Regions from separate parts of the Homo sapiens genome. Here all the other regions are linked to region 3. Evidence: fine-mapped expression QTL. A gene starts in region 3. Each other region holds a variant in brackets. All regions are shown on one strand. Distances are between the middles of the regions.

Region 1 (8,182 bases), 360 kb after region 3:
GATGGTGCCATTGCACTCCAGGCTAGGTGAGAGAGTGAGACTCCATTTCAAAAAAAAAAAAAAAAAAGTTATGCTTACATTTTTATATTTATGTGTATCAGTATGTACATGCACATACAAGTAGTCTTTTCAGAGCCAATTAATTTGAATACATTTGCAAGTCTTATGAATTAAAAAAATGTTTGAAACTACTTGAACTATCAGAAAACCTCTACAAATATTGAAGAGATCAAGGCAAAGTTGTACCTCAAGTGATTTTCTGAGTTATACACAACATACATAATAAAAAAATATTGCTCGAAGTGATGGAACTCATAGGACCAGCTCAATAAAGTGAATTATGCAAGCTCTGCTAACTGGAAGATGTTATTGAATGGTTTAATTCAAGTAAAAGTTCTCAACACAAATATATCTGTACCTGTATTGATGTATGTTGGTAAAATACGATGGGCATAGTTTGCTGACCTGACCGTGTAATTGCAGTCAATGAAATTATTAAGCTTCCTCAATAGAATGAGGAGAGCACAACAGCAGGTGCGAGTTATATAGAGAGAGATTCACCATGGTTCTGGCCTTAAAGGCTCAAAATTCAGTTGGAGAGAAATAATGGGTTTATAAAGATAAAATATTGTTGGTAGTAACATGATATCTGTTGACATTTTGAGAAAGAGATTTTCTGTGTATTCTGTGAAGTAGCTTCTCTCAGAAGCAGTGGTTATTGAATAAAAAAAATCAACATTATCTTGAACCCATTGGGTAAGGCTGGAGTGAAGGCAAGATGGAATCTCTTTCCTTGGAGTTCTTGGCACTCAAGCATCTGAGTGGGTAGCTTTTGCCCTGGTAGGTGTAGATAAGCATGTGTCTTTGGTCTGGAGGAAAGCTGCCTGTTTCGCTTGAGTCAGCTTGTTCACAGAGTGAGGTGATTCTTCCCAACTCTCACCCAAGCAAATTGATGACTCCAGGGTGAGCAGAATCAATGCACTGGCATTTGCCAAATACAGATTCAGATGAAAATGGAATAAATTAGTTCCTCTCAGTCAGTTATTGCTTCGTGTATGCGAGCTGAGGAAGAAGGGGTGCTGAGGTGCATGTTGAATGTGAACTACCTTCTGTTTTCAGCTGAAGATATAAACAGACAGTGATTATAAAACTGTAGCTTGGTGGGGAAAGGAGTTCTGTGAGAAACTCAATTTCTCCCTCTGAATTGTACCTGGAGTAGCACTGACTCTTATTTGCATAGGCTGTTCAGAATATGTCTGGAATTTCCATTGTGAGGTTACAGACTGCCACCATGTAATAACAGCATTACTGGAAGCTAATACTGTAATTAATTTCTTACTACCATACTTAGCTGATATTGACAATGAGATGTGTGATTACCCAGCATAACTTGGCAGATTCTTCACAGCAAAAGAATTCATAATCACATCTGATGGCCTGTCCAACGGAGAGAACAGGATGTCTAGGAAGAGGCTATCATTTCAAGGATGGACATAGTATGGTTAGTGCTCTCAAGACATGCTTAGCCAAAGAGAAAGCTAGTATTTTGGTATTAGTAGTTGAGCTTGATTCCAGTACAGCTGTTCATAAAATAGTGAGGCATGCTACAAAGCGATATTGCTGTGCATCACCAGAAAACTCGGAATAAAAGAAATGCCAAACTGAAGATGCAATCTTTTGTTGGTGGGGAAATAATATCCTCTTTATGATATTCTTATGATGTTTCATTGACATATGGTGCTTCTAACCAAGTGACAAATTAATTGACTAAAGAGAAATGGATGTGGCTTAGTAAAGAAGGACAGGATATGTATTATAAGGCAGCTGGTTCTGCCACTGCTGGCTTATGGAGACAATATACATTGGACAGCTAATGAGTCTCTGTTGCATAAGATAGATTCTCTTTATAATAGAATTGCACGCTTTGTCTCTAAATGGGGTTATTATACACACCATTGCACAATGTTTGAAGAGCTTGGTTGGCCCTTGTAGAGGATTACGAGAGAAATAAATTGGAAGACAATGTACTGAAGACCTTCAATCCATCAAACATTTCATATTTATCTAAATTACTAGCACATTCTCCAAAAATATGAGTCTGTATGATACACAAGGCTAGAATGTTAATGCTGACCAGACTTTGCTTTATCAGACAGGTTTTCCACTGTAAGCATTGACCAAAATTCACGCACAGTGAAGCCGGGCAATACACATTCCAACAACTGCCCCCATTCCATTTGCCTCTGCTCTTCATGTATTCCACTATCTTAGTCCCTGAAGTTTCATTTGTTATTTCTTCTACCCACCATGAACACACAGGGCTCACTTGCCCTGGGTTATTTAATTCTCAGAACTTTTTGACTTTGACTACCCAGACAGCTTTAGTGGTAATTCAGTTTCTTCACTTTTCTCCATACTTGTGGGCCCTCACAGTTCAGTTGCTCAGCTATTCTTTATAATAAATCCATTTCAATTAAGGTTAAAGCCTAGAAAGAAATACTAGGCTGGATGTGGTGGCTCAGGCCTGTAATCACAGCACTTTGGGAGGCTGAGGTGAGTGGATAAAATGAGCCCAGGAGTTGGAGACCAGCCTGGGCAACATAGCGAGACCCCGCCTCTACAGAAAGTACAAAAATTAGCCAAGCATGGTGGTGCATGCCTATAGTCCCAGCTACTTGGGAGGCTGAGGTGAGAAGATTGCTTGAGTCCAGGAGGTTGAGGCTGCAGTGAGATATGATTGTGCCACTGTACTCCAGCCTGCGTGACAGAGTGAGACCCGGTCTCAAAAAAAAAAAAAACAACAACAACAACAAAAAACAAACCAAAAGAACAAAAAGGAAAGAAACAAAATATTGGAAGTGACGAAGAAGACAGGATAAATGACAACATCATTCACTCTGTGTCAGAACACTGTACTTTCTATTAGAGGACATGGCAGGGCTTATTCAGATGGTGTAGATGGGGAGATGGAGGAGGTGAGTCATGCTCTTACCATCATTACTCTCTAATGTGGCTTTGAACCTGATTCCACTTTCTGGCTTGATTCTTCTATCCATGATATCATGTAGATGGAATTTTGTAGCTCAATTTTGCCCAAATATTTTCAGGGTGATACCATGTCTTTGAGCCCCAGGGGAAGTTTTGCACAGGAAAGGTGATTCTTGGGGTATATCATCACTAGGTTTTTGACTTGCCAATGGACTGTGGAGGCACCATTAATTCCTGCTGATGCTGAGATCCTCACCTATGTGGTGAGGTGACAATATTTTGTTTCTTTCAAACTTTCTTCTCTGTGTCTTTCTCCTCTCAACCTACCAAGAGTAATTGAAGAGAATTACACCTGTGAAACATTTCAAGATGCTTGGAGTAAGATGGTCTTTTCAGTTTAAGACATTATTATATTCCAAACCAGATTGCTTTCTCTCTGTCATTGTGAGGTTCTTTCCTTTGCAAGTCTATCTGTACTCTGGTATAGAGAAAGGTGAGCTGAAAGAAATGGACAAAACTGTTTCATGGACTTCTCCACATATTTATTACCCTCTCCAAATTGAATCTTGAAGCCTTGTCAGAAGTGTTATTTTCCCAACAGAGTAGGTGTTAAGTGTCTCTAGAA[A/G]ATAAACTCACCTCCTGATATCTTTCTCAAGATTATATTGTAAGGTGTGACAGGAGGTGTTGTACAGCAAGGGAAGATCATCACTTTGTAATTTGATTTGTTCAAGTTCTCTTCTTTGGCACGGGCTTTTGGATTTCCTTGTCATTTCTGGAATTATTTCTTAAATGGTGAGTATTTTTTTCATATGTGTTTTTCCCAGAGCTTATTCCATCCAAATACTTTTTAAGTTGCATACACTCTTCTATAAATAGAGCTATGTTTTTGTAATGGAGTTTCAATAATTTGGCCAGGGAAAAGGAAAAACTGAAACAAATGGTAACAATGACTAGTTAATGATTTTTCTTTCACCTGATTTTTTATGACTTTTATATTTTCTGCTAAAAGCAGATTATTTGATAACAATACTAAGAATACTTAGCTGTAGGTAAAAATTAATATCCATTTGACTGAATGTTTCATTTAATGACAGGGCTTGTGCTTACCACAATTATCTTAAGGAAATAAATGTGTACAGAGACTGATGAGTAGACACACTAGACTTTATCAATGTTTATTCAAATTATTGCAGTTTAGTGATTTGGAAATCTAGAATTGAGATGCTTTAGAAATAAATCTTTGCTTATATGTAATTTCTTTAGTTCAAGGGTCGGAAAACACTTTACAAGCAATTAAACTCTAGGATTCAAATGAGGATTTCATATTGTTTATTGTTTAAATAAAGTTACAGAATTATCATTTGCTTAGGGTTTCTAGAAAATCCTTTCTTTTAGGTCTACAAATATGCATACCCAAGTTTCCTTGGATATTTACCTCTTCCCTCAAGACATTTTCAGATTTCTTTTCTTCCCATGCCATCATATTTCTTTTCTTTTTTTTTTCAGATGGGGCCTGGAGTGCAGTGGTGCACAGCTCATTGCTCCCTCGATCTCCTGGGCTCAAATGATCTTCTCACCTCAGCCTCCTAAGTAGCTGGGACTACAGGCATGCACCAAAATGTCTGGCTAATTTTTGTATTTTTCTTTTTTTCCTCTCTCTTTTTTTTTTTAAATAGAACCGGGGTCTCACTATGTTGCCCATGTTCATCTTGAACTCCTGGCCTCAAGCGACCCTCCTGCCTCAGCCTCCCAATGTGCTGGAATCACAGGCACGAGCTACTGCACCAGGCTATTATATTTCTTGAAAAACTCTCTTTTTTACTTCCTCCTGCAACCAACTCCTCCAACCAGAGTCAGTCACTCCCTCCTTTTCTTGGCAAGATCTTGTATCCTGCCCTTGTCTCCCAGTCCTTGTGATCTTATGTTCAGGTAGAGAGGAACTTTCTCTTACTCATTGTCTTATTACTTGTATCCAAATGTTGGGGACATTCCCAGCCCTTCATAAGGATTGTTTCAATGCATGACTGAATGAATCTGTGAGTGAATGTGATCACTGTGGAGCTGTGAAGTAGCTTGGGCCACTCCCAAATTGTGCTGGCCATGCAGTGAAAGGCATTTTCCCTGTTTTGACGGGGCTGTTTATCTCTGCTCCTGGTTCTGCTCTCCACTAGGAAAAGGAGAAACTCTACATGGAACTAAAGCACGTCTTGGCCCGCCAGCCTGGACCTGAGGCTGCGGAACAGCTGAAGCTGTACCGACGCACGCTGCATGACAAGAAGCAGCAGCTGAAAGTAAGTGGTAGCCCCTGTTCCTTCCGGGTTCCAGGGCAGCCACACTCTGGGGAGCACACCTGGACAAGTCCACTGACTCCACACAATGAGCCAGTCTCTCAATGCCACGATCCTCTGAGGTCAGCTCCCTTAGAGCTCTAGTCTAGGATGAGCCAGCAGACCTCAGAGCTATCCTTCTCTTCCTGGACTATTAGACAGCACCATTCTCCATTTCCAGAAAGAGGCAGGTGAGCAAGGGAGGAAAAGATGATGACAACAGAATGGAGATGTGCGGACAGGGTTTGGATGAATGATCTTGAGATGATTTATTAGAGTACTTGAAGGGCAGGGAGGAGCAAAGGAAATATTTTAACACCATTGACCAACTGAAGCAGACTGCCGTGCCACAGTGGGTCCCTGGTATTCCATCCCATCTGAAATAAACATACACAGAAGAAGTCCAGCCACTGCCCAGCCCTGAGGGCCTTGCTTCCTGACCAGCTGTCAAATATGTAACCATGAAAGGGAAATAAAATCAGGCAAGATTTTTTGATAGTGTGATTCCCTTCTAAGTCACATAAGACCCTCAGTTGCAGAGATATGGAGTGTTTTACTTTTCTATGTGCCTTTTGAAAGTTTTCTCAAAAGTTGTGCATGTTCACACTATATTTTGAGCTTCACCTTCTAAGCAAGTACTTAGCTATTCTTGGCATATCAGGGAAGTTTTACACACACAGCCACAGGATGAAGCATGTGCCAGTTGAATTCTGGCACTTCCTGCCCAATGAGGGTAATAATCGTTGACTTTCTGCCTGGGGTAAAATATATGCCACCCTACTAGTATAGCCCTAACCCCTTCAAAAATAGGACATTGTAAAACTGCATCCTTTTATTTTAAAAGGGCAAATGAAACAAGTCTAATTAGAGCATTAATTTTCAATTTGTCACTCTGAATGTTCATTTCACTTGAGTATCTTGAGACATAATTTGAATTTTGCATAGGACGTAATCTTTTGATTATTTTGTTCCTTTAAACAATTGAATATTTTGAACAAAACAAATTATTTTCTTGTTTTCTCAGAGGTAGATATAGATTAGAAAAGCACAGAGCTGTCTTATTCACACAGAGCTCCGGGTTGCCTTCAAAGGCTCACAGGAGCCTTTTGTGAATTTAACCCTTTATCTCAGGAAATCCAGATTTTTTGCTCAAATGAAATGTGACCCCTCATGAAGAGGTTTAGAGGTGGGTGGTACTGAGCATGTCTGCCAGTTTGTCCTTGATACTTACCTACTCTTATAGGAAATTCCACATTCATTGTTTAGAAGGAGGGTCTTTGTTTCTAAAAGTTTAACTACTGAGACAGGTTTTTTTTTTTTTTTTCCAGCATGAAAATTACGTTCTTTAGCCCATGATAACCTAATCAAAATCATTTTCACAGCAGTGAAGAAGAAAGAGTTCAGAAGCAGATGAACACTAAGAAGGCTAAGATCTCCCTTTTATGCAAATATTTAAAACAACAAGCAAGAGGAAAAATAAATCCAGCCTATTGCATGCCTGTTAGAACAATACCCTTCCTTTTCTCTTTTTGGTTTTGGTGGGGAGCACACCCCAGCTTTGGCATGCGCTATGTCCTATGCAGATGAGTGAATTCCCACTCTTCTTGTCCAGCCCAAGCCCAGCAGCAGCTACCGAACACAGCAATGGAAGGAAGCAGATAGTCAGGCTTTGAAGAGTCCCGAAGAACACAGTAAAGAGGGGATAGGCATTCAGCAGCATCACAACCCTGGAAAACACATAAATTGAATGCTTAGTTAGCAGTGATGGCAGGATGACTTCAGAATAATTTTTTTCATAATCCTCAGATGAATCACACACTCTGGTGATGTTTTTCTTGAATATTTTCTTTTTTTTTAAGGCTTTAAAAGCAATTTTAGACTGTGTGTCTGGGAGTTTTCTGTCTCTATTCATGATATTCCTTGAAGCACATTAGACCATTCATCTGTGAGCCTGTTCGAATGTTGTCTAATAGTTCTTGTTTTAAGTGGGGGAATGATATTTTGTTTAAAGTTGCAACCTAGTGATGCATCTTCAGCCCTCAGCCAGGTTTCTACTCAGATGTGGACCCTGAGCTGGTGGAAGCATGCAGATTAATTGTGAAACTTGGGCATTGTTTTGCACCTCTAGCTCCACTGCGGTAAATGGTAGCAGATTAAAAGATTTCTCAGAAAAGGATATTGTATCTTTTGTTAATGCTGCTTTATTTGCCATGTTAGGTTTTGTCTTCAGAATTGAATATGTATGAAGTACAGAGCAAAGAATATAAATATGAGGTAGAGAAACTTACCAATGAGCTCCAGAATTTAAAGAAGAAATACCTCGCTCAGAAACGTAAAGAACAACTTCAAAAGTAAGAATTAGTCAAACGTCCTAATTTTGTTGTGCCTATTATCTGCACATAAGAAAATATTTGGTGAACAGTCACAGAGTTGCAAGTTTCACTGGGGTAAACTAAATCACAGGGTAAACAAATGACATTCTACAGGTCACTAAGTTTGTATCAGAGCAAGATCAGTGTCTCATCTGATACTGAGTCCCCTCCTTGGGATTCTAACAGGGATCCATTAATATCTGCTCATTGGTGGATCTACCATGGAGCAGAGGAAATGTAATATGACTTTTCTCCCCACACTAGTCTATGGTTTGGAGATAATAATGTCATAACTATGTTTGCAAATGAGTTTCAAAATCAGCCTTGTACAGCATATTCACATTTAAAACCACATGTGCTTTTGCTAAGGGACCAGGGCTTAGTAAAGCTGTTCTTTCTAATGATGCCCCTGTACCACTATAACTACTAGCAGTTCACCTATGTTTTATTTATTTATTTATTTATTTATTTATTTATTTATTTATTTTTGATTTT
Region 2 (8,154 bases), 53 kb before region 3:
GAGTGTCATTTTCTAATCTGGGAGCGTTGTGCACTATTGAGCTCATTCTTGACTTAAAAAAAAAAAATGAAACAAAAGAGGCTAACATCCATTGCCATCCAGCTGAGGACATAACCTCATATCTGCCCATCCTCTTTCTGAGTTTTGTCCAGAGAAGGTAGTAAGTTTGGACTTGTACCCTATTTTACTTGAGCTAAAACTTGATGAAGACTTTGGGTATCTTAGGTAGATCTAGTAACAAGGAAAAAACTCCTATGTCTTGATTAATCAAGATAAGGATCACTATTAAAGGGGATATAATACTTGAACCCCTAAAGCTACTTTTTTTTAAAGGGTCAAAACATCTTTTTCCCCCCTTTTTTTGGAAGTTACTTTTAATAAGTGTAAAAGCTACAATTAAAAAGTAAAAAATTCAGCCTTTGGGTAAAACTAATGAATTCTTTTGAAAAAAAATTATTTAAAAAGCACAATTCCTTTATTATACACAATAGTTTTGCTTAGTAAAACTCAAGTTGTTTGAAATCTGGAGGCTGTATGAACTAATTTTTATTTTATTTTTGTTTTATTTTTTGAGATGGAGTCTTGCCGGCTGGAGTGCAGTGGCACGTTCTCAGCTCACTGCAACCTTCACCTCCTGGGTTCAAGTGATTCTTCAGCCTCAGCCTCCCGAGTAGCTGGGATCACAGGTGCCCGCCACCATGCCGGCTAATTTTTTTGTATTTTTAGTAGAGATGGGGTTTTGCCATGTTGCTCAGGCTGGTCTCGAACTCCTGGGCTTAAGCAATCTGCCCGCCTCGGCCTCCCGAAATTCTGGGATTACAGGCATGAGCCACCGCGCCCAGCCTTATTTTTAAAAAATTCTCATTAATTCATAGCAGGCAATTATCAGGATATAATAAAAGAGGCAAAAAGACCACGTAGAGTGTGTAGTGCTTGACTGGTTGTTGCCGTTAGCGGTTGTTTGATATAGAGGAAACAAGTGGAGTGTTTTTTCTGGGATAATATGAGATACTCAGCAGAGACCTTATGGAAAATAAAGTCTTTTTAGAAGAGTAGTGGTGTAGAAATAGATGCAATTTAATCCCATTTTTAATTATCCAGCAATTTGAGAGTCACAACTTGTAACAAATTCACAAAGTGGCTAAGTAGAGTCTCTTCTCAATTGGAGTGTCTGATTTTACTGTGCATTTCTTTGGGGCATTTGAGATTTGTACATTTTTCTTTAATAGAAGTTTCTATATTCCATATATTACTTGCCCTACAATCATAATTCCATTGCCCCAGGATAAAGCACTACCTAATTGCAAGTAATCTTCTTGCTCATTTGTTGCATGTTTATTTCAAATAACTTATGCTTGGGGAAAACTTTCATGTGCTTTGTAAAATCCCCAGATTGAGTTCATAGTTGCAGGTATCTAAAGATTTGCCTTTGAAGACCTCAGGGATTGAATGAAATACCAGAAGCTATGCCCCAAAATACAACCACTTTTGTTTTCTTGTGTTTGTAATAAACAGTGTTAGAATCAGACCCAATTAACCCAGACTATTTTTTAATCTTTCTTTGGTCAGACGAATCACATTAAACATGATATTAGAAAAAAAAACTTCTTTAATGGGAAATTTTACGATTGAAATGATGTTTCATCTTATAGACCACAAACAAATGTTTTTAGACATTGAAAAGTGGTTAAAGACCAACTGCGCCCAGTCCCCCAAGTGCCATTTTCTGAGTGCAGAATGGAGGGTGACGTCTTGAGCTGATGCTGTGTCCCCAGCATCAGGTTTTCTGTTTTCCCTCTTCTCCCTTTATTCCTTCCTTGTCCATTGCCCTCAACCTTCTTTTTCTGTTTGCTCTGGCCTGGTTCAGTATAACATATCCATGAACTCTAGTATGGGCCTACGGACAATCATAGCTACAATCAGACTTTCTAAGCAAATGGGAATGTGATATACATATAACCATTAGAAACCCTATCATCACCTCCTAGAGGGGAAGTGAATTTCTTAATTTTTTTAGTTGCAAGAGTCACTTCTTAGCCAACTGACTAGAGAATGCAGAATGAACAGGGGAGGAAGGAGCTGATGGCACAGCCTTAGAACAGTAACCAGAACACACCCCCATCAAGTGTCACCTCCAGGAAGGCGCCCCACCCCCATCCTCCGTTTTCTGGGCTCATATTTAGGTAAAGCTCTAAGACTCCTGAGCCAACTTTTATGTAACTGGCTTTCCTAGGCTGGGGCTTGAACTAAGTAAAGAAGCCAAGGAGTTCAGATCTAGATAGCAGAGAAGTAAGTCTCATTCTAAAACATTGCAACTACTGTTAGAGTCCACCCCATGAAGCTGTTTCAGATTGTGTATCTTTGACTGAATTCTATAAGTATATATTGTTCAGACTAAAACAAATGTTGCTAGCTAGGTTGGCTGTGCTGTCTCAGTAGGACATTGACAGACTCCAGCTTTCACCCTCTGGAGACCTTGGACCTAAGTGCCACATGCATTATGAGACCTGGTCCAGGAGCTGTCCTGCCATGGCTAGCTCACGGCTTGACAGCAATACTTCTTCTCCTTCTCCGCCCAGCATAGACTTGGTCACCTGAAAGTTAGAAGATCAGTAGGAAGTTAAAACATATCTTGTGGCCTGTGGGGATCTTGGCTTGGGCAATTATGGCAACCGTGACTACTGCAAAGATGGCTTCAAAGGTGAAATCTTTTGTAAGACTACATTTATTTAACTTGTTTGCCCCATTTCAACACCAGCTTGGTTCTCCTTTTCCTCCCTGCTTTGACACTCTCCTTTTCTTCCTCACTGTGAATGGGATTGTTATGCAAATTCTGCTTTTGGCAGTGTCTGCCTGGAGTAATTGGCATTTGCCTGAATTTCTCAGGCTTGCTCTGGAACAAATCACCTGCTTCTCTAATGAGCGTCAGCCTTGCAGCCCTCCAGAACATGCAAAACGTGGAGCAGTCAACACTTACCTTTGTCTCCTTTTTCTCCCTTGTGTCCTCGAGGGCCAGGTGGCCCAGGATGACCTGGTGGCCCAGCAGGGCCCCTGTCACCTGGAAGGAAAAATGGGGCGTAACTAAGTAATACATGAGTCTGGGGACTGAGGGCACAGGTAGCCGGTGTGGCACCAGCACAGGAGCTGCTTTTCAGTACGAGGTGGGTGTTAACACAGGATCCAGGGACTGGCTCTCTGCCACCACTTACCTTTGGGTCCTGGAGTGCCCATCTCTCCTTTTTGCCCAGGGGGTCCTTGAATGGCTCCATAAGCTGCAAAAGCAAGGAAACACTGGCCTTAGAGTCTTGATCACCTGGAAGCTTGGGACATCAAGTCATTTGTTCAGAGTAACACAGAGAGATAGTGATGGAGTTTGGACGTGTAAGAGGAAACAAAGTTCAGAATTTATAGAATTTGTCTAATTTTGAGCATCTCAAATGTTAATAACTGGAGATTTCTCATGAGACTGGTGTCTCTGGAGCAGACCCGTGGGAACCTATGCAGTGAGGCAGGTGCTGGGAAAGCAGTTGGATGCCCTTACTTTGGAAGAAGTCCATGAGGTCCGCAGTCACGTTGCTGTAGGCAGAGAAGACCTTGCTGATGCCGGGTGGCCCCTGTGGCCCAGGCTGGCCTGGTGGGCCCTGGACAGTGTAGGCCATCCCTTGCAGTAGGCCCTGACCTGTAAAACACCAGAGCTTGGGCACAGGAAGCAGGGATCTCCCAGTACCCTCTTCAGCAGGAGCACAGTGCCCTCCGAGTGTCAAACTCCCAAAGCAGTTGAACTAGATCAAGCCGCAGCAAGGGTGAAGCCCTCCAACTTCCTTTGTATTCCACTGTGTGACTGGCACAGGTCTCTTCCTGCTGTGGGCCGGCATCAAAAGCTTGTTGACTGCGTAACTGTGCCGTTAAGCTGC[G/A]CGGGGAAAGGACTCTTAGCCAACATCCTTCTCTCGGCCCCAGCAGAAAATCCAGCATGGTCATATGACTCATCTGGGACCCAGAACGAGCTAGGTGTTGGGAAAACAAAGTACAAAGCCCCCAGCGTGCTCTGTTCCCCACAGCTCGGGTCCCAGGACTGGGGCTCCTTAAGCTGAGTAGGCTGAGAGCTAGGCTGGGGCTGCCTGTCCCCTCCAGCCCCTGCCTGCTTGATTCTGTCTTCACAGCCTGGGGGTTCCACAAACAAGAAAGCCAGTCTGGAGATGCTCCCACGCTCCTTCCCCCCAGCACCAAGGCCTAAATGTCCCCACTTACGCTGCATGCTCTCTGACACCCTCACAGCCAGCTCATTGTAATCCAGATCTCCAGCAAAGTCAGCTCCCAATAGTCCGCCATTGCCAGCATACATGCCGCCTTCTGCTGCTGCCCCATAGCCTCCGCCTGGGCCGATGTCAGTGCCATAGGGACCCCTGTCTCCTGCAGCTTCACCAAAGGCACCGCCTGCACCCAGGGAGCCTGCACCACCTCCTCCTGTGCTCATGGAAGAGCTGTAGGAGCTGCCCCGCCTGACAGATGAGCTGTGTGAGGAGGAGCTGCTACCCCGACTGTGGGAGGCATCCGTGGACAGGAGGCGGCTGTCCCCAGGGGGTCCCTGCGGCCCAGGAGGGCCTGGGGGGCCAACAATGAAGCTGCGCACATCAGGACCTGCAGGGTGAGAAGCTGCATGAGTGGGAGCTCAGATCTCGGTGGAGAGAAAGACTTGGGAGTTAGGGAGTCTCTCCCAGGGTGTCAATGCCCCTGAGAGACCAGAAGTGAACTTCAGGGTTCTTGTACCCGAGTGGGAGAATTTTGGTGTGGAAGGAAACCGGGCTTACCCCACCAGTGGCTCTCGTGTGGCCTTCCTGTCCCTTTAAGTGCCTCCCTGCCCCACTTACAGGGAAAAGCAAGGCCTGCGGGGTGCCTGGTGGGGCATCACCGTCGGGGCACCTACTTGTGAGGTAGCTGATCAGCTCGCTCCGGAAGCTGTCGCTGTTTTCAGCTGCATAGGTTGCCAGGGCTCCTGAGACACCCGGGGGCCCTCGAGGCCCTGGGGGACCAGGAGGTCCTGGAGGGCCTGGGATGAATGACAAGCCGGCAGCTGGGCAGAAGGAAGAGAAAGAAAGGTCGGGGTAGTGCTGCGGAGGAAGCTGAATTCCCAGCCTGTGCTCGGGGCGCTGTGGGCCCCACCTGAAAGGAGGGGATGAGGCTGGGCCTCCCGGGTGATGGGAGGAGAGAAAAGCAGGAGGCCAGAGCCTGCTGTTTCCTGACATCATCCAGGAATGGCTGTTCCCGTCAGGCTCTCCCACTCCCAATTCTGAGCCTCATTCAACTCAGCCCTCCAGTCACTGAGAGGTGGAGCCCCAGGTCGGCCCTAATCACACACCGGGCTGCGCCTGGGAAAGCCATCTCTCCCCACCTCTGTCCCTGCCACGGCTGAAGGCCCCTTGCCAGCACATGTGGCGCTCTCCAGGGCCCTGCACCCAGCACTGTACAGGCTCCAGGAGCACTTAGACTGCCCTTGCTAAAGCCCATGGGAGCCCCCAAGGCCCGGCTGCATCCCCTGCCCTCCCCATCCCACTCCACAGTGCCCTACTATGTAAGTAAGACGAGAGGTCCTCCACGCTGATGCTGGACCACACATTGCCTGGGATCCCTGGTGGACCCGGGGGACCTGGGGGTCCAACGATGCCTCTGAATTCAGACCCTGAGACACCAAGGGAGGGCACGGAGTCAGTCCTGGCCTGGGCCAAGGGACTCTGCTTCCTCCCCAACCAGTTGGACAGATGTCCCCTGCTGGGCCTTACCTCGCAGCAAGGAGAGGAGCTCCTCATAGGAGGTTCCCGGCAAGCCAGGGGGCCCCGGGGGACCAGGAAGCCCAATGCTGATCCCAGAACCTAGGGAGGTGATGGATTCAGATCAGGCAGGGGGAGGCAGATGGAAACACCTGTCAGAGAGGAGGTCGGATACAGAAGAGGTTTGGACAGAAGTGGGGTCCAAGAAAGAAAAGAGATGGTGGCAGGAAGAGAGGCAGAGAGGAGGAGCCCAAAGGAGGAACGGAGGGGCCCACGGGGCCGGAGAAGCAGGTCCAGTGTGCCTGTGTGCTTCATTCTGTGTGTGTGTGTGTATGAGTATGTGTGTATGGGAGTGAGTGTGTGTGTGTATGGGAGTGTATCGGAGTGTGCGTATGGGAGTGTATGGGAGTGTGCGTGAGTACTGGAGTGTATGGGAGCGTGTGTATGGGAGTGTGTATGAGTGTGTGTGTATGGGAGTGTATGGGAGTGTGAGTACAGGAGTATGGGAGTGTGTTTATGGGAATGCGTGTGTGTATGCATATGTGAGTGTGTATGGGTGTGTCTGAGTATGGAAGTGTGTGTATAGGAGTGTGTGTATGGGAGTATGTGTATGGGAGTGTGTATGGGAGTGTGTGTGTATGGGAGTGTGTGTGTATGGGAGTGTGTGTATATGTGTGTGTATGGGTGTATGGGAGTGTGAGTATGGGTGTGTGTGTATGGAAGTGAGTGTGTGTGTGTATGGGAGTGTGAGTATGGGTGTGTGTGTATGGGAGTGTGTGTGAGAGAGAGAGAGTTGTATGTAGACTCCACACGAGACAGTGCCTGAGACCCCCGTTTTGGCTTTCCTTGCCATGCTTCTTGACCTGCTCCAGGCTCACAGGTTTGAACGGCTCTGAGCACTGCTCATTGCTGGGGTTGGTGCAGTCTGGCAGGTGGGGGTCAGTGGGGCAATCACAGGGAAGTTCACGCTGCGAGTCCTCATCCCAGTCATCCCAGGCCCTTCCCAACCACCCCTCCTGCAGACACTTACTCGACATGTAGCTGAGAATGCGACTACTCAGCTCTGCATAGTCCAAAGACAGGAGGGACCCATCTCCACTGGCTCCTGGTGGCCCTGGCGGACCCCGAGGGCCCATCAAGTACTGACGTAGGTACTGACGCACGTCATCCCCTGGAGAGGAGAGGATGCACTAGCAGGACCCACCCAGGCCATGGGGGTCGCAGCCATGATCCAGCCACAGCCTGGGCTCCCCTGCACAAACTGGCTCCTGCGTGACATTTGTGAGTTCTGGGTCCGCAGGACCACGGTGTTCAGGGGGGACACCAGCAAGCTGCCAGGTTCCCAAAGGGACACCTGCCAGCTTGTCTGGCATGGGGGCTTGGGAGGACATTTCCTGCCCCCTTTCCAGCCGGTTTGCTGACTCAGCAAGCAGATCAGAGCAGTAAGTGGCTCTTTGTCCAAAGGACTCTGCCTCCCTCTTGCAGCCCTTCCAAGGCTCAGACGAGGACAAGGTTTGCATGACGAGTGAGGCCAGGAGAAAGCAAAGATAGTCCCACCCTCGATCCCCCCACAGGTGACTCACGCTGCAGCACAGCCAGAATGTCTTCAGAAGAGATGGAGGACGAGAACAAGCTGACACCGTACCCCGAAGCTGTCGGGAAGAAAACCTCAGGTTACCTGCTTAGCAGGTACTGAAGCAACACCCTCACTATTCCAGAATCTGAAAGGCCCGGTCACCGAGCTGTTTGTCTTTGGGGGAAGTGGATGAATGGAGTATTACGAGGCTATTTTGAAAGCATAACAAAGTCAAATACTGTTGTTGGGATTTTTTTTTTTTTTGTAAGAAAGGAAGTTTATTTTTGAGAACATGCTTTAGCCTAATGCCTGCCAGATGCTGCCAACCTTCATGCACAGGTGGGAAGAACCTATAATTAGGAACACATTAGTCAATTGCCGGAAGGCTCACTCGGTGTCTCTCCAGCGTGGCCGCCCTGAATCTGGACAGACCCTTGTTGACACTGTATCCCAGTGGCCCGATTATTATGAATTCGGAATTAAAACTCATGTTCCAGAGAAGGGCAAAGCAAACAGCAAACGAGGAGATGAGGCTCTGGGAGCAAAAGCAGACCCACAGGAGGAAGGTGCCAGGTGCAGGGCGTGGGGAAGGGCTTACTCCGTAAGTAGCTCACAACGTGGCTTGCCAGCTCTGAGTAGTCGAAAGTCTCGCCTGTGATGGTGGTGACAGGTCCTGGGGGACCAGGTGGGCCTGGGGGACCCTGAACTCCGGATAGGTAAGATCTAATACTGTCACCTGCCGACCAAGGAACAAAGCAAAGTCAAGCCTGTCCCAAGAGGACATGTTCTCCCCACGGAGGTGACCTGAAGCAC
Region 3 (8,182 bases):
AAAATGCTAAGGATTCCCCAACTTCCAGAGGGCACGAAGTGATGACCTACTTAGAAATCAGATGCCCTCCTTCAGGGCCTGGGAGCTCCTCATTGGAAGGTACTTTGTGGATATAACCTGCTCTAGGCAGGTACAGGTAGATGCCTCTCTCTCAATCTGAAGCCACCCCAATGTCTGTGTGTTCCACAGCCAATCTGAGGTGCCAGGTACGTGTTGGGAGACTGATTCCTTTAAACGAAATATAAGAGGAAACTTTCTATAAGTGAGTTATATTAAATGGAGAGTGATGGCGTGGGGCACAAGCCTGGACTAGGATCTTCCCATGGGACCTACAGTATATTCCCAGGACTTCTTTTTTACACATTTTAAGTGCTGATAGTTTTTAAAAGTGTAACGTTAGGAAAAGGAACGTTTCCTGCCCAGGTACATGCCTGAGCCTGCCTATCCTAGCAGGATTCACCAGTGTGTTCGTCTTCCAAAAGTCCTACTTAATGGAAGCACTGTCAAATAACATAATTTTTAACTTCTCAGATATTTGGGCCACTTCACTAGAACTAAGGATGAGCAGATCATTCAAGCTCTCAATTCCAAAATTATACTAATTTCCATCCATAGTTCTAAAGGGTTGCTTTGTGGCTATTTTATAGCTAATGTTTTTGTGAAGGTGTAAAAATGATCCCATGTCACTTTTCTAGGCAAGAAGACACAATTTTAAATCATTTTTCTACTTTTATGAGTTTTTTCCTTTCCCCTTTATTTAAATGATGTCACGTCTACCTAAAACTATTCAGCCGATGCTGTCTAACATACACACACACACAAGGACAAACCACTGTTAGTGACAGTGAACCATCACGTTAACTGTTTACCATCACATTTGGGTTTAAACCATCACATTATCTTATTCTAATGACACATGAAACACTTTGTTCTTGATACAACAAAGAGAATGAAGAAGCTAAGTATTTTTCTCTTTATTTTTTGTTTTAGGAACAAATGTTCCTATACTCTGCTAATGAATTGCAAGTATTTTTATAGCTTCTATTACTCCATTCTCTATACACTTTAAATTTTAAAACAAAACAACAACAAAATTGCCAAAGTATTAGAAAACCATCCACTGGCTATTGACCTGATAACACAGAAGGGCCCAGCAGTTTGATGCCAGGAAAGCCAATGCCCTGGAATTGAATATCTTGGAGGCTTTGTCTCTGTAACACCCCAGAGATGGGTTTGCTGCTTGCTACATTTGGTATCCTGGATTTTCATGACTGGGAGCAGGTGGGATAGGGCACCAGCTTTGTGATTATGCTGGTTTGTTTACAGTTGTGTCCTGCCACTGTTAATAATGGCAAATGAAACAAACAATGTAAACACAGACTTCTTTTTGTTTTTCATAATCTGAGAAGGTGGTTAGTTCTTAGGTCAGGTCAGTTTCACCAATCTAAGGAGTTTTTTTCCTATTTTTTTTTTTTTTTGAGACGGAGTCTTGCTGTGTTGCCCAGGTGGGAGTGCAGTGGCACAACCTTGGCCCACTGCAACCTCTGCCTCCTGGGTTCAAGCAATTCTCCTGCCTCAGCCTCACAAGTAGCTGGGGTTACAGGCATGCACCGCCACACCCAGCTAATTTTTGTATTTTTGTATTTTTAGTAGAGATGGGGTTAGTATAATATGAGTGTGCACCACTACGCACACCACTATGCTTGGCTAATTTTGTATTTTTTGTAGAGTCAGGGTTTTGCCATGTTACCCAGGCTGGTAAGTTTCTATGCAAGCTTGAAGCAGAGCTGTTCACTTTAATTGTTCCTGTGTAAACTCTGATCAGACTCATGTGGGTGTTTTGCAGGGCCTAAGAGTAAAGCAGGACACCTCTGAATCTCTGGAGTGAGTCTGTGTGGGGATAGACATCTGTCTTAGGTTAGTTCTGACAGATCTGTGCCTTAGCTCTAAGAGAGAACATATGGAGGTAAGAAGAAACTATTCTGCTTTTCAAATAAATACCTTTTAAAAATCTTGCTACGTTTTACAAGTCCACTATTAGACTACTGATTAACTACTTCTCAAAAGAAGGAATGTGCCAGAGGTTTTGCCTCCACTTCAAAAAGTAAAGTGATAATTTGTCAGTTACCAGTTAACGTCATCCACTTAGGTATCTAAACTGGTAATTCTCATCTCAAAGTGAATTTTTTTGGCAGGAGGAAACCCAAGTTGACTCGTAAGAGTATATATACGGGAAACAATTTTCTTCCTTTTTTTATTCCTCTAAGTTTGATCCTGCAAAATTTCTGAATTAATCAGATCATTTCAAAGATCCTACTTTTCTTTAGATTAGAGGTAATTTTACAGCATGGTAAACAGCAATGTTTACCATGTATGGCTTAATCAGAGAGGCCCAGTCAGCACAGGGACTGTTTCTAGAAGGCCCCCTTACCTATACTTTAACTTCACCCCTGAGTTGTTCTCTTCGTCCAGTGGAGAGAGAGACAGAGGGAAGAGGAGAGCAAGATAGCGAGAGAGGAAACTGAGATTGGGAGAGAAGGAATTATAAGCCCGTATCATATTCTAAATAAAACAACACAAGTCATTTTACAATGCTGAAAACAATGCAGAAAGGTCTTGCCTCTAAAGCCCGCTATATTTTAACCAGCCTTCAGCCTTCTCCTTTTCCCCACTTATTTCCTTTGAAAGACCTACCCTAAGCAGAATGCATACACCAAAGTCATCTTTTATAACCAATTGATCACTTTAACCAGAATGCTAGAAACTACAGAACTTCATCTTCTTTTCTCCAATAAACATTTAATTTCTAAATGGCAAACCTTAAATCAAAGTCTCAGAGAAAAGGAGAAAGGTCAGTCTTCCTGTTTACTTACCTGGTTTGAGGTTTTGAAGGAATTGGAAACAACTTTGAATAAATCCCCCTCTCTCTTTCTTCTCCTGATGTTTTCTTCTAGAAATTTGCAGTGCTCACTTTTTTTTTATCCAGACCCAGCCAAGGTGTGTTAAAGCTGAGTGATCTTTCAAAAATGTTCACTTTTCTTTCTCTCCACCTTGTTTCTTTCAACTCTTTGCTTCCAAACATGTCCTGACAAAGGTGTGTCATGGTTTACAGCGTTACTCCACCCTTCCAATTATCTGACACTTGCTGGATTTAAAAAAAAAATCTGCCTCCAGGAATCAAACTTTACTGGAGGCAGAAAGCTTCTCCTTCCAGCTTAGGTAGATTAACTATTTATAAGGCCCATGGGGAAAAGGAAACAAAGGACCAGCATAAAGGAAATGCTTTTTTATTGCCTACCTTCTACAGCTGGAGAACTGCCACAACTTTGTGGCAGTACCCTTCCTCAGTGCCATGGGTACTGGAATCCCACTGCATGATTCATGAGTCTAGGCACGTGGATGGGCTCATGGATGAGCATGGTCTAGGCACATGGATGGCCTGTGGTCATACTGCCTGAGCCCTAGAAAAACTGAAGTTGGCAGGATTTATATTCAAGATCTGTTTCCCCTATAGATGTCTTCGTCCTCTGTTCCTGTGTCCTGTGTCCTTTGTCTTGTTTCCCCTATAGATGTCTTTGTCCTCTTTCCCCTCTTGTGACTCAAGCCAGGTCAAGCCCATCTGGAGAAAATAGTTGGTGAACTAATTCATAATATGCTAATGACTGAATGTACTGAGCAATTGGTGGGGTAGGGGTTCGTTTTACAAAAGAGGCAACCAGATATAGTGATGCTGACCTAAAAGAGTGACATGTTAGTGATGGAATTTTAGGCATTTAGCCACCTAATAATGGAGAGAGGTGCTGTTGGGAAGGGATAAGGACCTTCTTGTCCTTCAAATCAGGTGACCGCATAGTCTCCATACACCTAAAGACATGTGTGGGCTCCCAGATGTCCTGCAACTCCAAGTACATCCTGGGGACCTTTAGATTTCCCTAGAGGGTCAACTTGCATCAATCAGGATAATTCTTATGAATACCTGGATAGCATCTGGCTTCCCAGGGGGCCTAAAGACTAGCTTGAGACACTTGGTGTTGGTAAAATGGGAAGTCTGAACCTGGAACTCACTCAGGCAGTCCTTTGAGGCCATAGCACATTCCTGGGACCCAGCATCACACTGGGATTCCCAGTTCTGAGGCATTATCCTAAGATACTGGAGGGGAGCAGTGGGGCCCTTACAGCATAGCACCGATGTGCAACTGCACCTTGCTATTGTGGGCACTGCATCCCATGGAAGGGTAGCAGACCACAACAACAGCTGTGGGGCTCTTGCTCCTAAGCTGCCCATATTCCACACTGGAGTCGTGCATTTCAGAACCCTTTCAATTATGCAGAATTTGACACTTGCTTTGTAGGATGTTCTTGCCTTCCCCAAATAAATACTCAATATGTCTTCCGTCAGTTTCATAGTAGAAGAACACTGAAGAACCCAGAACACACAGAGCTTTCAGCATAAAATAGACATGCCCCTGCATCATTTATTTCTTTATTCATGAATTCAAGAATTAAACAAAAATATATTGGCTCCTGCTTGGAGCCAGACATTAAACTATGTGCTAAGAGTTTGGTGGTGAAATATGAACATAGTCCCTCTGCTTATGGAGTTCACAGTCTAATGGAGGAAGACAGGCCTTACATAATGTATTAGTCGGTGAGGGTTCCCATAACAAAATACGACGGACTGGGTGGCTTAAACAACACAAATTTATTTTTTCACAGTTCTGTGGGCCAGAAGTTCAAGATCAATGTGTCAGGAGGTTTGATTTCTCCTGAGACCCCCCTCTCCTTGGCTTGCAGATGGCCGCCTTCTTGCAGTATCCTCACATGGCCTTTCTCTGTGCATGCACATCCCTGATGTCTCTCTCTGTGTGTCCTCATCTCCTCTTCTTAAAGGACACAGTCAGATTGAATTAGAGTCCACCCTGATGGGCTCCTTTTTTACTTAAATTTAACTACTTCTTTAAAGACCCTATCTTCAAATAAATTCACTGAGGTACTAATGGCTAGGGCTTCACATATGAATTTTGGAGGGACATTATTCAGCCTATAACAGTTACGTACAATATATAATTGCAGATTATATATATATATATATTATAAGAGCAACTGCAAGAATATGATAACTATTATAAAGAAAGCATACTGACTTGAGGCCAGGAGTTCAAGACAAGCCTGGGCAGCATAGCAAGACCTTGTCTCTACTAAAAAAAAAAAAATAGCTGAGTATGATGGCATGTACCTGCAGTCCCAGTTACTCGGGTGGTTGAGAAAGGAGGATTGCATGAGCCTAGCAGTTCAAGGTTACAGTAAGCTATAATGGCGCCAGTGCACTCTAGCCTGGGTGACAGAGCAAGATCAGAAAGAAAGAGTACTGGCTACTGTGAGAGCGTAAGAAGAGACATAATCTTGGAGAGGGGTGTTAGGAAAAGTCCTGCTATATAAGTGATACATGAAGGTTGAAAAGAGATCACACAGGTGAAGGGCAGGGTGGAGAGTGTTCTACTATCTAGATGGGGCAAGAGTCTCTGAGAAGGCTCTCAGGTGGAAGCTGCACGGTGAGTTGGGGGAAGAGTGATGAGGCCAATTTGCTCAAAAGCATCAAGTGAAGGGAGGCAGGCAGCGGGCGAGAGGCTGGCAAGGGAGGCAGGACTAGATCACACAGGGCCTCACAGGCTGTGGAGGGTCATGTTTTGGGTTATGTGGCAAATGTTAAGTTGACATTAAGGAGCAACTCCCTACAGGCACTGTGTGGGTGTTCGGATTATTGATCCCAGGAAAGAAGAACGACTGCAACTAATGCTTTCTAGAACTACTGTAAGCCAGATTTTTTACATCCATTCTCTAACACAATCCCGACAACGACTCCGAGAGGTGTGTACCATTATTACCTTCATTTTATACCTGAGAAAAGTAAAGTTTGAGAGGCTGAGTAACAGGCCAAGGGTCTTCCATCTCATAAGTGGCAGAGTCTAATAGATTCCACTTGACTCTTGGACCTTCATTTCCCACTGCCTTGTGTATTATTAAAATTTAAGTCTGCCCATAGCTTTCAACTGAAAGAAAATAGGCAATATTAGAACAGATCAGGCTGAGGGCAAATTACAACTAAAAAAAACCCCAAACCATCTGAACAGTGGGGATGTTTTCAGTTAACAGCAGTATGGTATTGGAATAACTTATTGATAGTTTTAGATAGAAATCTATTTATAGAACTCAGCAACCACAGACCAATCAATTTTTCAACTATAACAACTATATAAAACCAAACACACAGGCCAGGTATTGTGGCTTATGCCTATAATCCCAGCACTCTGGGACGCCAAGGCAGGAGGATCTCTTGAGGCCAGGAGTCTAAGAGTAGCCTGGGCAACATAGTGAGACCCCCATCTCTACAAATAAAAATAAATTAAAAAATAAAATAAAGCTAACATGCTAAGCAACCATCAGAATCAGCATGGATGGTATTTTCCTACCCTTGGGTTCCTATAAAAATATTGGTATTCTCCAGGTACAATAGAACAGTCAGATCTATAACAGATAACCCCCAAAGTTAATTAGTCAAGGATGCTCTAAGCTAACTCAACAGCTAATAAGACTGCATGTCTGTGTGTGCATGTGCAGGTTCTCACATATTCAGATGTGCATGTGTGAGTAGTGTTTACAGAGTCCTATATTAGGTATTTTGGGGGAGAAGAAAAAAGAATTCAAGTACTCACATTCTAGTTATTCAATGTTCTTAGATTATTGTACTTGGCAAATCTGTGAGTAAGACATGGTACATACAGTGAAAGAAACTTCATTTAACATTTATGTATCAAGTTCCTACCATATGCCTGGTAGTAAGGGAGCTGTCTTTTAAATGTTTTTAAATTAGCCAGAAAACAACAAAATTCTTGCCAAAATGAAGAAGCAAAGAGTCAGCTTTAGGAAATAGAAGTGACTAAGACACTGGAAAGGTGTTTTTTGCTCTCTGACTGCATTTGGAGCTGTGTTAATGAGTCACATTAATCCATTTTTGATGGACTAGAAAGTCCCTTAAAAGGCAACCTGGAAAAATAGTTATACTTCCAAAATTATCTACTGACTTTTAAATAGGCTGGGGAGAAAGAGTGTCTTTTCACGTGTGGCCCAGATTGGCACCAAGTGACCAGACGCATCACTCTCTGAGCAGCGTGAGTACAGGCGGACTCTGCTTTATGTGACTGATGTGTTTCTGAAAAGGGATTTGTTTTTGGTGACCAGAGTGAGTGCTTTTGCCAAGTGACTGTTCACTACCTTATGAATCTTTGTAGATGCATATTTTCTTTATGTGTTTGGTTTAAAGGGGTGTACCCAATAGGTGGATTTCTACCTATTCTATGACTCTTTTCTCATAAAAACAGTATCACATGATAGTGCCATGATGTGCTTATGATACTTTCACGAGGTATCTTATAGCTTTGGGACACATTTTGCCCTCCATTCTCAAGAGACAATAAGAAATAAAGTTCTCTGAAAAGGAGGTGAGGGAAAATAATTTTAAATTTACTGAGGTAATTCCAGTATCTACAATTGTTGATTCAGCTCTTTTGTTGGACAGTAAATCCACTGATTTTTTTTTAAAAAAACCAATTCTCACATATTAAATAAAAATAATACAACAATTATTTGTTAGTTGCCTACTACTGTTCTAAGACTGGAAGACCATCTTCCGGCTTGGCTTCTTTGCTTAGCATGTGCTACTAGATAAGACTTCTCTATACACAATTATGACAACATCATATGTCATGGTGTGTGGAATTGTTTGGCTTTTGGAAGGACATAGCTAAGTAGTACGAACTCCTGCCCTTCCCATGTGGGCTTCTTGAATTATCGCCAGTTGTGTTCCTTGCTGCCTTGATTATAATAACAAAGCACCCTGGTTTCCTTTTCTTCCATTCCCAACTTCAGATCTATTCACTCATTTTTCCATTCAAAACTCATACATATTTGTTGAGTGAGTGGACTACCACCTATGGAGTGTCTATCATGAGCAAGGCATGAGGTGTAGAAATACAACTGAGGGTGAGATATAAAACCTGCCTTCCAGTAATTTACAACACAAAAAGAAAAAATATATGAACACAGTCACCACATATACCAATAATTACAACATACAGAAGAATATAAACCACAAGAGAACAGTTAAGAACTATGAAAATTCACT

Which allele goes with the higher level. Alleles are on the strand shown, and positions count from the first base shown. SD is a standard deviation of normalised expression in the study named.
For the expression in spleen of the gene that starts at base 3,031 in region 3, allele G in region 1 goes with a lower level than allele A (large effect, 1.1 SD a copy in GTEx).
With allele G in place of A in region 2, the expression in whole blood of the gene that starts at base 3,031 in region 3 is higher (small effect, 0.33 SD a copy in GTEx).

What was found.
Region 1: its variant is fine-mapped to the expression of COL17A1 in spleen (GTEx, PIP above 0.99).
Region 2: its variant is fine-mapped to the expression of COL17A1 in whole blood (TOPMed, PIP above 0.99).

What each region holds. Positions count from the first base shown.
Region 1 is chr10:104,442,539-104,450,720 of GRCh38, forward strand. It overlaps CFAP58 (cilia and flagella associated protein 58), which reads left to right. Exons shown (of 18, transcript NM_001008723.2): 16 at 5,160-5,279; 17 at 7,533-7,666. Among named protein-coding and RNA genes, the nearest start is that of LINC02620, 34 kb to the right of the region's middle. RefSeq lists an enhancer at 2,366-3,565. The variant A/G (reference allele first, on the strand shown) is at 3,614.
Region 2 is chr10:104,029,697-104,037,850 of GRCh38, forward strand. COL17A1 (collagen type XVII alpha 1 chain) reads right to left here. Exons shown (of 56, transcript NM_000494.4): 46 at 7,940-8,077; 47 at 7,349-7,417; 48 at 6,796-6,936; 49 at 5,778-5,867; 50 at 5,567-5,677; 51 at 4,925-5,071; 52 at 4,249-4,638; 53 at 3,542-3,679; 54 at 3,210-3,272; 55 at 2,978-3,058; 56 at 1,590-2,594. The coding sequence ends at 2,539. Among named protein-coding and RNA genes, the nearest start is that of MIR936, 14 kb to the right of the region's middle. The variant G/A (reference allele first, on the strand shown) is at 3,915.
Region 3 is chr10:104,082,850-104,091,031 of GRCh38, forward strand. COL17A1 (collagen type XVII alpha 1 chain) reads right to left here and starts at 3,031. Exons shown (of 56, transcript NM_000494.4): 1 at 2,874-3,031.